Homo sapiens: one gene and its partner. The protein of the gene in region 2 interacts with the protein of the main gene of each other region in a pairwise test. Each region holds a gene or a part of one and is shown on either strand. Other genes may lie near its edges. The genes, in order: RAPGEF5 and TMEM253.

Region 1 (3,814 bases), on a different chromosome or scaffold from region 2:
TGAAGCCACAGCCTGTGTCTTTTCCTGGGATCTAATTATGTCACCAAAGTGTGGGGGTTGGGAGGGAAAGGAAGAAATAAGTAAATAAAATATTAACTTGCCATTGAGTTCCTTTGCTAGAATTCACACGAAATTAAATGAATCTACAGTTTCTTTTCCTTCTTCCCAAATAAATATTTTTGAAGTTGGCATCCACAGAGCTTTATTTTATCTGTAGCCATAGCTAACACAGTTTTACACCAAGGATCAGGATAGTAGTTTGTCAGCAAGCAGAGGCAGTGAAGTCAATATTTCTCAAATAAGTTCACTATGTGTCCCTCATATCTGATCTGACTCACCCTTCCTGGCAGATGCATGCCTCTCTTAATGGCCTTTATCTTCTGGCTGCCATAAGCAGATGAGAACAAAGTAAGCTGGGTGAATTCACAAGGTTTTTGGATTGACCTTGATCAAGTGAGCATGGCTGATTTTGCTTATGACACATGGATGCTGTTTTGTTTTGTATTTTAGTTGTTTGTTTGTTTGTTTGTTTTTTGTAGCAACATGGTCTTGCTTTGTTGCCCAGGCTGATCTTGAGCTATTTTTAATTTAAGTAAACATTAGTTACCTTTCGCCTATAACCACAATGCTTCTCCCCACTTCCCCTAAACCCAATATGTCAATAATAAGCTTCTGTGTGCCCAAATAAAAGTGAAAAGTCTGACATTATTAATGGCATTTATTTACCTCTCTCAGAGTGGTAAGATAATATCAGCAGGTACTATAAGGCTATCACAGTTTAGAGTAAATAGACCCTTTGCCCTCTCAATGCATTTGAGGAAAACTAAAGTTAATTCAGAGCATGGACTTGGCTCTACGGAAACAGGATACATAGATGCAAACCTCCCTTCTGGCACACACTCTGTAACCTCGGGCAAATTACACCTGTGTTTCAGTTTCTTCATCTGTGGAATGCAAATAGCAGCATCTAACTCATAGGCTCATAGGCTTGTAGTGAGAGTTGAAGTTTATATCAGAATATGCATGGTACATAATTAAGTGCTATGATGTTAGCCATTGATTTCAATTTAAACACAAAGAATAAATGACATGCTTTGCCTGTAAAATAGGTGCCTAAAACGGCGATACATTGGGCATACTGGTATATAATTTGGATCGGTTTCTATTTCTCAATCAATAAAGTCAAGTTTCTAGCAGAGGAGGGTATTGAGTCAGAGCTAAAGCACTCCAGCTTGTACAAAGGGAAAGGGATACTTTGTTCCTTTTTGAGACGGAATCATCTGGGCAAAGAAAAAGAGAGAACTTCATTCAGAGGGCTACCAGCTGTTCTTCCCAGTTTCTCAATTTTGAAGAGCACAGGCCATAAGAACCCTGGCTAGTGAAGGGTGGTTAAAGAGAATTAGGCCCTTCTGATGACCAATCCAAAAGCTGGGAATCACTGAAGGTCTTTGGTGAGCAATTTGGCACAACTGGTGAATCATTCTGGCTGCTGTAAATGAAACAGATACCAAGACGTTGAAGACAGTGGCAGAGGCTGCAGAAAACATCACAGCAGCCAAAGCCCAAAATAAGTCAGTCCCAGCATTTTGACAGTATATACAGAAAAAGGGAATAGCTGTTATCAGTTCTTTTATTAGGGGGAAAATATCAGTCTTAGAAACAACCTGATGAGAAAGACTTAAAAAGATACAAAAAAGTAAGGTAGGAGGCTTAAGACCAAGGGAAAAATAATGCAACCACTAAGAAAGGTAAAAGATGGGGAAATGAACGATTGTCAGTTTAAAAAAAAAAAATTCATCAATGCTCCTTGGGAAAATGGCTGATTTCAGGGTTTCAGGTCGGGAGCAGCAGACTATGGACAAGATGCACTTAGAATATCTTGCGTCAGAAAAGTAAGAAAGGTATTTGAGTTTACTGGCCATTTAAAAAGTATACAGGAGACAAAGATAAACCAAGCACCAAAAAGGATATTGACTGAAGTGACAGAAACAAATACATTAAGATTCATAAGTTCTTAATGACACTTAAAAAAGAAAAACTCACTGGTTCTCACTGGAGATTGTTAAAGCACCAAATCATTACTCTGATAGTTGGTAAAAGGAAAAAATTAAGACTTTTCCCTGTCTATCCTGCACATTGTGAATTTCAGGAGACCTAAATAATTTATGAGGGAAAGTTCTTTACAGACCGAATTCCAATTAATAAATGCAAGAAGAATGATGGATTTAGATCATCACCATTTTGCAACCCCTAATGAAAAGGATCTAGGCTACAACGATCTGTGATACTAAAATCATTAAGTAGAAGACAGACAGCTAAGTGACACTACCTAAACTCACGAATCAATCTTTCCATCTCAAAAAGAGAGATATCCAGACATTATGCGTCTCACGATGTGATGCAATAGATTTTACACAGCACCATCCATGAAGGTTACTTGTCTTTGAACCTATATCTAATCAAACCTCTATATCTAACTGCCAGATCACAGGAAACAGAATAGAGGAACAAGCTAAACATCACCACAAGGAATCAGTCCAGACAGTAGGATGTTCTACAGCACAAATGAACCACTCTCTTCTGCAAATCACTGGCATGAAAAAAGGGAGGGGAAGCTGTTATAAAATAAATTAGAAATCCTAACAACTAAATACAATATGTGGACCTCATTTAGCTCCTGTTTCCAACAATCATAAGTAAAAAGACAACTTTGAGAAAATTTGAATATGGAAATTATATTTTTAAATTATTAATATTTTAGGTGTGAAAAAGGCAAAGTTTTGCTGTTGTTTTTAATGTCCTTATCAGGACCGTAAACTGAAAAATTTGTGAGTAAGACAACATGATGTACGGAATTTTGTTTTAAAATGCACTAGCCCCTACAAAAGTGTATGGAGGGGGAAAATAAATGAAACAAGACTGGCAAAATGCTAATAACTGTTGAAGCACAGGTGTTCATTATACCATTCTCTCATAATCTCTGTTATACAATTAAAAAAATTAAAGGGTTTTGTCAGGAACTCAGGTTGTGCATTACTTTGCTACTGATTTTTAAGAGGTAGTTAGGGCCCTCCCACAATGTACAACTTAGTCTTTCCCTCATTTGTCTTAAAGAAGTGCAAAGAGTCTTAACCAGTATGCATGCTGAATTCAACACAACTAGAAGTGACTGAACTGAGGAACCAAGGAACTCAGGCATATTAACCAAATGGCAGTTTGATTTTTTCCTAGTAACAGATAGCCTACAACGTAGTGAGACCCCCAGTCTCTAAAAGAAATAGGAAAAAAAAAATTAGCCAAGCATGGTGGTGTGTGCCTGTATCCCAGTTCCTCAGGAGGCTGAGGTGGGAGGACCGCTTGAGCCAGAAGGTCGAGGCTATAGTGAGCTATGATCACACCACTGCACTCCAGCCTAGGTGGCAGAGCAAAACCCTGTCTCAGAAAAAAAACAAAACAAAACAACAACAACAAAAAAAGCCTATAATGCACCTGGGTTGAGCAACACAACCCACAAAGAACTTTGTTAATGTCAGTTGATGTCAGATTGTCCAGGTTTGTGGGAGCCCAGGGCAGCATGGATAAGGACCACACATATTCCTAAATCAGATCTTGGTCAATATAGGAGATGAAAACTCAACTAACTCATGTAATGCACAAAGCTGTGTCTTTACTAGTGGTAATGGATTTCTGTTAACTTATCCCTGAAGTCACGCAGCTCCAGTCTGGAGGTATGGCCCATGAGACACAAAGCTGAAGGTCTACAAAAAGATCCAAGCCATGATTTGTTTGCATTAGCATCACTGCCCAATCCAAG
Region 2 (4,521 bases):
AGGAGTAGACACACAGCAGTTTTCTGGATCTCTTTAAAACGTGACTCCCACTCCCCGGGAAAGAAAAGAGTAGATACAATGACCCGCCGATGTTGGCACAGCACTGATGGGGCAGGAGTGGCTTACAAAAGATCACTTGCCTCCCAGGACCCTGCCTCCCTCCTCGTACTAACTTCTAGAGTCTTCTGGCGCAGTCTCCTCTTATCGTCAACAACAAGAAATAATAATAGTGATGATGATCATAGCCACTAACATTGAGCACTTGTGTACCAGGTACTGGGCTAAGCTCTCTTCCATGCTGAAAGCAACCCCTTGAGACTGGTATTATTAACTTCCTTTTATAGATAAGGGAACAGAGAGATTAAGCAACTTGCCAAGGGCACCTAGGTAGATCTGGGATTTGTTTTGATCTATAGAGTATATTTGGGCCCAGCTGGTTCTGCTTCCGACTGTAGAAATGTGTCCCCAGCTTCCTTCTGAATAACACTTTTAGTGTATGGGCATCAGACTTATCGGTGTGACCTCATCAGCACCACTAATAGTTATTAAACACCCACCCTGAATCAACAACTCTTCACAGTCATATTGTTAGCCCCCTTTTATCAGTGAATAAACTGAGGTGCGAATAGGTAGAAAAACATATCTATCAGGACAGACACAGTGGCCCACACCTGTAATCCCAGCAGTTTGGGAGGCCAAGCAGGGAGGATGGCTTGAGCCCAGGAGTTTGAGACCAGCTTAGGCAACATTGTGAGACGACCCTGTCTCTACAAAAAATTTAAAAATTAGCCAGGCATGGTGGCATGTGCCTGTGATCCCAGCTACTTGGGAGACTGAGGCAGGATGATTATTTGTGCCCAGAAGGTGTTGGCTACAGTGAGCCATGATCATGCCACTGCACTCCAGCCTGGGTGACAGTGAGCCCCTGTCTCAATAATATAATAATAATAATAATAATAATGTATCCAAGATCACACAGATGGAGAAGCAGCAGAGCTAAGATTCCAGCTCAGGTCTGTCTGGCTATGAGGCACCTTCTCTCTCAAAAATATTAATTGTTGCAATAGCATCCTTCCCAAGACTCACTATTTGAGGACCATGAGATAGATAGATAGATAGATAGATAATGTCCAGTTGCAGGTTATCATTGAATCAAAAACAATCCCCACCATAAACAGGGTCCCCCCCATCCATTGAGTCAGTGTTCAGTTCAGAGTAAAACCTTCAAGAAAGAAGGAAGGGAGACTGTCCAGAAAGTGAGAGGCAAGAAAGCCCCTGGAATTCAACCTTACCTGGTCTGGGGGCAAAGCTGCAAGTAGTAATGACAGGGGACCAATCCAGACAGAAAGTAGGATCTCTAGGGAAGGGCACATAATTTGAGGAGGAAGCCAAAGAAAGGAGTAAGATCATATGGAAATGAGGGGGAATTGAGGTCCAGAGTGATAGTGTCCATGGGGATGAGGTAAGTGAAACCAGAAAAGGAACCCAGGATGGGCAGAAATGAGGGTAATGAGAAATGGGAACAGAGTGAGGTCGGGCTAGACATCTTGTGGAGTGAACTGAGGCCGGTATCTACCCAGGGCCACTCCCTAGATCCTTAGGCCTTCATAGAAACCTTTGCCCCACCACACCCCATCCCTGACAGCCTTCCTCTGCCAGGACAAGTTTGTCGTCTGCTCTGAGCTATCAAGCCCCTTAGGAGACCTAGGACCCAGCTGGGTCCCATCCCTTTGGAGTAGCTGCTTCAGACTAGGTAGGTGTGAGGACCTGGACCTCAAATCCCTGGATATTGGGAGTGGGCAGAGGTGTAGCTGAAAGATACGTTGTTGCATGTCCTGTCTCCTAATAGACAGAACCTATAACGCATTTTTCCCAGCCTAGGAAGCACCTAATTCTTGTGGGCAAAGGAGCCATGGAAGATAGAGCTGGTGAGCAAGAGCAGGAGAGACACAGCCTTCGTCTGGAAAAGCTACAACACTGGGCAAGGCACAGGCAGAGTGGGCACCTCTTGGTGCTAGCGGTGAGGCCAGGCTACCCCATCCCAGGTCTCAGCATGTCCACTTCTACCCAATTCAATTCCATCCATCCATCCATCCATGTTAAGTGAGCACCTACCATGTGCCAGAAACTGAGCTAGGTTCTGAATGGGAGGAGGGTAGAGGAAAACATAGAAATAAACAAGGCAAGACCCTTAATCTCCCAAGTAGCTTCCATCTTGTGGGGGAAAACATACAGGTAAGTAACTAAACTACAATATGAGGCAGAAAAAATTAAATGATACTTAATTTTTAATGATCACGTCCTTGCTCTGGGTTGACTGCTTTCCTCCACCCTGCATTCAATCCCATTTCCTGATCTCTAAAGAGGTAGGAGTTACGAGAAGGGAGGGAATCCCTGACAGTTCCTCCCCAATTACCCTACCCTTACCCCCAGGTGAGCCAGCTATGGCTGGCAGTGGTTGTGGTGCCCCTTGCTGTCTCAGTCGCCTGCCTGAACTCTGATTGTCACATGGCCACAGCGCTGCCTCTTGGGCCTGGAGCCTCAGTAAGACCCACCACAAGGGAGGGTGGAAGGTCCCAGGGCCCCTTCCTAACGGGACCAGAGCTCAACACTTGCCCTTCTCACCATTCAGGGTCTCCTCACTGGGACTGTCACTCTGGAGCTTCGCAGAGCACCCCGCCTTTGGAAGGTGAGAGGGAAGAAAACGCAGCACTGTCCTCCCACTCCCTAAAACAGACACCTACAACCCTCAGCCTAGGAAGTAAGTGGCTAAGTGTTGACTCATTCTCTCAGCTGTCACCACTGACTGGCCTCAATCACTGAGGAGGAAAGCAAAAAAGTTAAGAGGGCTTATGGCCCTGTTTGGAGGCTGAGAAGCAGAAGCTGAGTTTTGTCTTCAGCTAGGCTGCAAGTGGGGATTGAGGTTGGAATGACTCCCCTAGGCTGGGCAGGGCTGAGCTGGCTCACTGGCAGGTGCGGGCCATGATGATATTCAACACCTTCAACTTGATCTTGGGTTTCATAGTGGTGGTGGTCGAGGTGATGAAGACAGCCTTGGGGCCTGCCCCAACTGCCTCCTCCCAGGTACTGGTCAATGAAGGAGAAGGTGGGAGGATAAGGAGGCAAGAGGAGGTGGGAAGGGAAAAGGGCAGGGGCAAACAGGTGCGGGGTCCCTGCATTCTCAGCCCTGTCTACCTGCAGCATGCTGGCTTGCTGGTGCTGGAACTCAGTGCTGAGGCCTTCACCCTAGGGGGAGTGCTGGTCTCAGTGCACGCCCTATTCTTGCTGAGCCAGAGGAAACCAGGATGCTGCAGGAGCCAGAGTCTGCACTATCAAGAGCTGCAGGAGGTATGGGGGCAGGGAAGAAAGCACGAATAGCTAGCTGCCAACTAATTTTTCCACTGCCTATCCTGGTCAGTGGCACTTAAGGGAAAATAATGGGGCAGGAGAGAAAAGAAGAGGTCCTAGAATGAAACTGATTGGCTTTCTCTGGCTTTGAACATTTCTCCCCTAATGGTGGGTAAGAGGAAACTGGGAATCCAAATGATTGAGGTTAAAAGAGTGGGAAAGCATTAGGAAGCTGCCTAAATATTGGCAGGACTATGGGAAACAGGATAGAAAATTGGGCAGGAGGAAGCAGTTGTTTCTGTCTGGGGTTTCTCCTTTCTCACCTCTACAATTTGCTCACACCTGTCTCTGGTTTTCAGGGCTTCTCTGAGTTGGAAGAGGTTCCTGGTTTGGAGAATGGTCCCACGGTGGCCAGCACAGGAGCAAATGAGAGGGTGGGACAGCGGGAACAGACACGTGCTGCTCTCCTTCCACCCTGAGAGAATGCTCTCCAGACATTCCTGCATCCCACCCCACCAAACTCAGAAGCTTGCTGGGATCCTTCGAGTCCAATAGGAAGTCCGGGAGTGCCTTCAGTTTTCACTCAAAGCAGGCCCTTTTTTCGTTCCTTCCCTGTTAGGGGAAGATACACCTGGACGAGAATATATCCTCACCTCACCACCCTGAAAAGCTGCTTTCTCCCTTGCATCCATATCCTCTCTTCCTGTCACCTCCCCATACAGCTTCACATTTGCCTCATCGCACTTTTCTTTTCTGTCCACCTTTCATAATCCCATCCACTCCAAATCCCGGACCCTGCACACGCCAACTCCCTGAATCCAATTCAGGAGTGCCCCAGTTCCCCTTTCGATCCATCTCCTTTCTACTGTAGCGGAGACTACAAGTCCCAGGATGCCCCGCTAGCCCGTGACCGGCTAGGAAATAAAGAGCCTTCTCTCCGCGGTAGGGGCGCTGTTGGATGTGCTGAGTGACGCGAGGCGGGGAAGTCGGGGCCTAGCCTGGCGCTTTCTCGGACGCGACCACTGGCCCCGCGTTCGGGGAGGAGCCGGGCGGGCGGTCCTGCACTGGCGTGCCGCTCCCCCAGCCACTGCAATAGAGAGCTGGATCTGGGTCCCCAGCCCTGCGCTGGCAGCTTCAGAGACTGGCGAGGGCTCGGAGCTGACGCTTGGCAGA

What was found.
Region 1: the proteins of TMEM253 (region 2) and RAPGEF5 interact in a two-hybrid assay, tested with the Homo sapiens proteins (one large-scale study listed by BioGRID and IntAct).

What each region holds. Positions count from the first base shown.
Region 1 is NC_000007.14:22,350,631-22,354,444, forward strand, and holds part of RAPGEF5 (rap guanine nucleotide exchange factor 5), read right to left. Parts: intron 1-3,814. UniProt on the Homo sapiens protein: Guanine nucleotide exchange factor (GEF) for RAP1A, RAP2A and MRAS/M-Ras-GTP. Its association with MRAS inhibits Rap1 activation.
Region 2 is NC_000014.9:21,099,432-21,103,952, forward strand, and holds TMEM253 (transmembrane protein 253), read left to right. Parts: upstream 1-1,634; 5' UTR 1,635-1,753; intron 1,754-1,876; 5' UTR 1,877-1,912; coding exon 1,913-2,020; intron 2,021-2,433; coding exon 2,434-2,544; intron 2,545-2,632; coding exon 2,633-2,689; exon of another isoform or gene 2,690-2,761; intron 2,762-2,973; coding exon 2,974-3,084; intron 3,085-3,201; coding exon 3,202-3,348; intron 3,349-3,707; coding exon 3,708-3,827; 3' UTR 3,828-4,293; downstream 4,294-4,521.